2 separate regions of the Homo sapiens genome follow, and region 1 is linked to region 2. A link means that fine-mapping ties the variant in region 2 to the expression of a gene that starts in the linked region. Tissue or cell type: unexposed skin. Region 2 holds a variant in brackets; the other region holds the start of a gene. All regions are shown on one strand. Distances are between the middles of the regions.

Region 1 (2,761 bases), 71 kb after region 2:
CCAACCTTTTGCTACTGCAGCTAATGCCGCAAATGAGTATCTTTGTTAGTGCCTCATAACATTTTAATTTTATTTGATTTTAATTAACTTAAATTGTAGAACTGAGGCCAGGCATGGTGGCTCACGCCTGTAATCCCAGCATTTTGGGAGGCCGAGGCTGGCAGATCACGTCAGGAGATCGAGACCATCCTGGCTAACATGGTGAAACCCAGTCTCTACTAAAAATACAAAAATTAGCTGGGTGTGATGGCGCCTGCCTGTAATCCCAGCTACTTGGGAGGCTGAGGCAGGAGAGTCACTTGAACCAGGGAGTCAGAGGTTGCAGGGAGCCGAGGTGGCGCCACTGCACTCCAGCCTGGCGACAGAGTGGGACTCCGTCTCCAAAAAAAAAAAAAAAAAAAGTAGAACTGAAGCAATGAAAACATTTTTCCATTAACCTAACTTGGAATAATATTTTGGATATATTTGGGTTAAATAAAATATTAAAATTAATTTCATAGCTGGGTGAGATGGCTCACGCCTATAATCCCAGCACTTTGCGAGGCTGAGGTAGGAACATGTCTTGAGGCCAGGAGTTCAATACCAGCCTGGGCAACATAGCAAGAAAAAAAAAAGTAAATAATAATGATAAATAAAATGAATTTTACCTGTTTATGTCAAAATTAAAATTGCATATGTGGCTTGCATTACACATAAAAACACACACATATATAATTTTTTTTTTTTTTAAAGAGACAGGGTTCTGCTTTGTCGCCCAAGCTGGAGGGCAGTGGTGCAATCATGGTTCACTGCAGTCTCAAACTCCTGGGCTTAAGCGATACTCAGCCTCTTAAATAGCTGGGACTATGGCCACATGCCACCACGCCTAGCTAGTTTTTTAGTTTTAGTAGAGATAGGGTCTTGCTATGTTACCCGGCCAGTCTCCAACTCCTGGCCTTAAGTGATCCTCCTGCCTCGGTGGCTCAAAGTGCAGGGTATATTTCTCTTAGCTAGTATTGCTCTACATTGTTGTAGTCTGGTGGTGGCCTGATATCCCTACTGGACTGAAAACTCCCTGAAGGTAGGAGTCCAGTCTGTCTGGATTTCTCTTGTGTCTCCATAATCACCCAACCTGACATGGAATAGGTGGTTAATCCATTTTTGTTGAATGAGTGGAAAAATGTGCTCTCCCAGGAAGAAACATATGCTTCCCAGCTTCAAGTGTTAGTGAACATCTTCCTAGAAGGCAGGCTGAGGCGGAAAGGGTATTGACTCCGGCTTCTCCACCAGAGGACCTTGCAATTCCAGTCAATTCCCTCGGTAACTCTTATGGAGGAGTGGCAATATACCTTAAAAAAGGAGTGTGTGTTGCGGGGTATTCCGCTGCTTGGTTATGTCACCAGGTGGATTAAATTTGGACAAAATTTCCCAAGGTGTAGGTACTCTACAAACACTAGTTACCCTCAGGAATGTGCGATCAACAAAAGAATGCAAGATAACAAGGCCCCTAGGCAGCCCCTGGGTCTTGTGGCTCCCGTCGAAGGCAGAGCTCTGGAGCCGCCTACGCCGGGGACAGGCGACTACACCTGGGGCCCCTCACCCTCGGGCCTCCTGCACGTGGCAGGGAAGGCAGGGCGTCTCTATCTCAAAGCATTGGCTGCGCCTGTTACCTGCGACAGGATTCCCGACAAGGGACGGGTACGGCGTGTGCACTCAGGAGCTCCTAGAGCTAGGGGCAGCAACTAAGAAGCTACCTGGCGGATGTTGCGAGAGGACTCCGCCCACAGAACGGTTGGCCCCCAACCCCGCAGCCGGCGGACTTCCCGAGGCCAGGGGTCTGAACGCGCGTGCGCATGGGCGCGCGCCCGGCGCGAGAACGCGCGCGCGCTCTCGAAAGAAAAAAAAAAAAAATCCTCTCCGCGGGGTCCCGCGGCAATTTAGGCCGGGGTCTGCCGACGACCGCGCGTGCGCGGGCGTGCATCTACGCCCTCCTCCACCGCCCCCTCCGCTGGGGGTCTAGCGCACTGCTCCGCTTCCCCCGTTTCCCCCGGGCTAGCGTCCTAGGGGTAAGTGACTCGAGCCTGGCAGAGAGTGAGGGAGAGGTTCCGCCGAATGAAGGGAGGAGGTAGACGGGGCCAGGAGAAAGGAGAAACCGCCCCGGCGGGGCGAAGAGCGCGGCTCTCGAGCTGTAGTCTGCAGGAGACACACCTCCCTCCCTCACGCCCCTCGGGGCTGCGGAAGTGCTCTACAGACTGGAGCTGCACGAAGGCGACCAGCGGACTACCGTTCCTAGGAGGCAGCGCGGCGGTGCGCCTACGGCTCCCGGCAGCCCCCGCGCGCCATTCTCTTTTTGAGTTCGCGGCCGGCTAGGGCGAAACTACAGTTCCCAGGAGGACTCGCGCGAAGCGGCTTGGAAGTGGGCAGCCTGGAAGTCACTCGGGCCACCGGAGCTGGCGGCGTCTCCAGCGAGCGGCGCGGAGCTGGACGCCGCGATCGTGGGGCCCGCGAGGCGGGCAGCCGGGGCGTCCAGGTACGTGGCTCCGGGTGCAGGATCGGCCTCGCGCAAGGGTGGCGGGGAATCGGTGGCTGCCCGGACCCCGAGGGTCAGCGCGGGCGGACGGCCGGGTGTGGGTACTGGCCGTGGGGGGCGGCGGCGCCGGGACTCGCGCCCTCCGGACCCAGCCGGACTCGTGCCCGCATGGCTCAACTTTCCAGGCGTGCACCCCGGCGCTGTGGTGAAGAGCTTGGAGGCGGGGAGCGGTGGATTCGCGTCCCGGCTGTG
Region 2 (2,761 bases):
TGGTGCATGACTGTAGTCCCAGCTACTCGGAAGGCTAAGTAAGACAGGAGGATCGCTTGAGCCCAGGAGGTCAGGCCACAGTGAGCCATGACTGTAGCACTGCACGCCAGCATGGGTGACACAGCGAGACCCTGTCTCAATAAGTTTAATAAATAAATAAATATTTACTGAGAGATGAGTGGTCATTTGTTGTTTTTGAGCTAACCAACGTTTACCCTACTACTGGAAAGCAGCACTGGAGGGGTCATCCCTCCCTCACCCTCAGTTTGCAACAGAATACATCTGTATCAATTGGTCTCTTCTACACTTTCTCAACCAAGTTTCCATAAAAAAAAGTAAGCCCTCATGTCCTAAAGTATCCAATCTACATAATGAATTGATTTCTTTCCTAGTCATCTAGAATGCTACTAGTTATGAGGCATTGAGAGAAATGAGAAAGTAGCCCCTCAAATCATGTTCTGTGTTCCATGATTCAGATGAAGAGCCACAGTTGAGAAAGGCTGACAGGTTCTATGAAAGATTCTGAGGGTACAGTGCTGAGCAAAACAGACATGGCTCTGGCTCTTAAGAAGATGAGTCAGAGGGGAAACAGACGTTAAACAAATAACTAACAACTGAGTATACAAAACAAGTAAATGCTTACAAAGAAAGGAATACACGGTGGCTCACCCCTGTAATCCCAGCACTTTGGGAGGCCGAGGCGGGAGGATCACAAGGTCAGGAGAACGAGACCATCCTGGCTAACACGGTGAAACCCCGTCTCTACTAAAAATACAAAAAATTAGCTGGGTGTGGTGGTGGGCGCCTGTAGTCCCAGCTACTCGGGAGGCTGAGGCAGGAGAATGGCGTGAACCCCAGGAGGCAGAGCCTGCAGTGAGCTGAGATCGCACCACTGCACTCCAGCCTGGGCGAGAGCGAGACTCCATCTCAAAAAAAAAAAAAAAAAAAAAAAAAAAAAAAAGAAAGGAATACAATTCTGTATGACAGAGGAACCCAACCATGGCAAATATGTATACCTGTCACAGTTGGAACAACTTTTTTAAGTTCCAGCCTACACCAAAAGGACCACTCTTATTAGAATTGCACACACGATACACTGCCTTTGGGAAACTCATACTTCACAGTATGTAATAGGATGACCACCATGTGTGGCAGACCTTGT[C/G]GCATGCACCTCTGTCACTATTCTTTCTTTATTTATTTATTTAGATGGAGTCTCGCTCTGTCGCCCAGGTTGGACTAAGGTGGCGCGATCTTGGCTTACTGCAACTTCTGCCTCCTGGGTTCAAGTGATTCTCCTGCCTCAGCCTCCCGAGTAGCTGGGATTACAGGCGCCCGCCACCATGCCCGGATAATTTTTGAATTTTTAGTAGAGACAGGGTTTTGCCATGTTTGTCAGGCTGGTCTCGAACTCCTGACCTCAAGTGATCTGCCCACCTCAGCCTCCCAGAGTGCTGGGATTACAGGCGTGAGCCACTGTGCTCTGCATTCTGTCACTATTCTTATGTGTACCCAAGGGGAATGTGTGCTATTTACAACATGGAGTTAGCTGTGTGTCAGCTCTTCTGGCCATGTGGGGTGTGTGTATATATATGTACCTATCAAGGGAGTTACATACCTTGTAATAGGTTACACAGTAGAACATATACAATACATGCCACCTTCCAGTGATGTAGCAGATGTCTGTAATGTATGTACATGAAGTCCTCATGCTGATCAGCCAAAACTGAGTTCATGAAGTTTACTTCTGGGGTCACCCTTCTCAGTAGCTACTTGAACTATACCCACCTCCTGAACAATGCCCCATGGATCTAACTCTCCAAGTTTCTCTGCATCAGAATTTGTGCTCTGACCAACTAAGTTGGAAGGTATAATACTAAATCAACTGAAGTATTAAAACAACTTTACTTATAATGTCCATCATACCTGCTTCCTGCATCCACAAAGGATTTGAGACTATACTGAGGCCAATATCTATCTACAACTTAGAATCTCTCTTCTTTCTGTATTTCTTTTTTCTTTCTCTCTCTCTTTTTTTTCTTTAGAGACAGAGTCTTGCTCTGTTGCTGTTGACGTGACTAGAGTGCCATGGTGTGATCATAGCTCACTGTAACATCAAAATGCTGGGCTCAAGCAATCTTTCCACCTTAGCCTCTTGAGTAGCTGGGACTATAGTCATGCACCACCACACTTGGATAATTTTTTTTATTTTTGTAGAGATGGGGTCTCGCTATGCTGCCCAGGCTACTCTTGAACTCCTGGGCTCAAGTGATCCTCCTGTCTTGGCCTCCCAAAGTCCTGGGATTACAGGCGTGAGCCACCATGCCCAGCCCTACCTGTATTTCTTATTTTCAGATCTCAAGAGCTTACAGCACCATTGTCATTGCTGATTCAGTAGCAGTAGCAGAGTTGAGTGAAAGGACCCTGGTGTCTGAGCTCCCAACCCCTCATCTCTCTTAATCAGAAAGCTCATTTACATACCTCTTATTCCATTAGTTAATCATCATTCCTTTTCTCCTTTCCAGCCTTTATGTACAAACAATTCATTCACTCATTAAATGAGATCAACGCTTTGCTATGGAAAAAAACTAAGAATATCTTAACGCAATGTATCTGCCTGATATTACTGCTACCTACTCTACATCAAATCCTTCTCCTTCCTCTTCCCCCTCCTTCCATCCGAATGAAATTCTGATTTGGCTTAGGGCGATCATGGACCCAGAAACTTCAGCAACATAGAGTACTACTATAGTACTCCAAGGCT

The links. PIP is the estimated chance that this variant, and not a neighbour inherited with it, causes the effect.
Region 1: it holds the start of WDR87, and the variant in region 2 is fine-mapped to the expression of WDR87 in unexposed skin (GTEx, PIP above 0.99). The same link has a PIP of 0.9 or more in sun-exposed skin.

What each region holds. Positions count from the first base shown.
Region 1 is chr19:37,904,850-37,907,610 of GRCh38, forward strand. It overlaps WDR87 (WD repeat domain 87), which reads right to left and starts at 1,745. Exons shown (of 6, transcript NM_001291088.2): 1 at 1,650-1,745. SIPA1L3 (signal induced proliferation associated 1 like 3) reads left to right here and starts at 2,359. Exons shown (of 22, transcript NM_015073.3): 1 at 2,359-2,509. RefSeq lists a silencer at 2,471-2,710.
Region 2 is chr19:37,833,734-37,836,494 of GRCh38, forward strand. It overlaps the pseudogene WDR87BP. Among named protein-coding and RNA genes, the nearest start is that of ZNF573, 56 kb to the left of the region's middle. The variant C/G (reference allele first, on the strand shown) is at 1,163.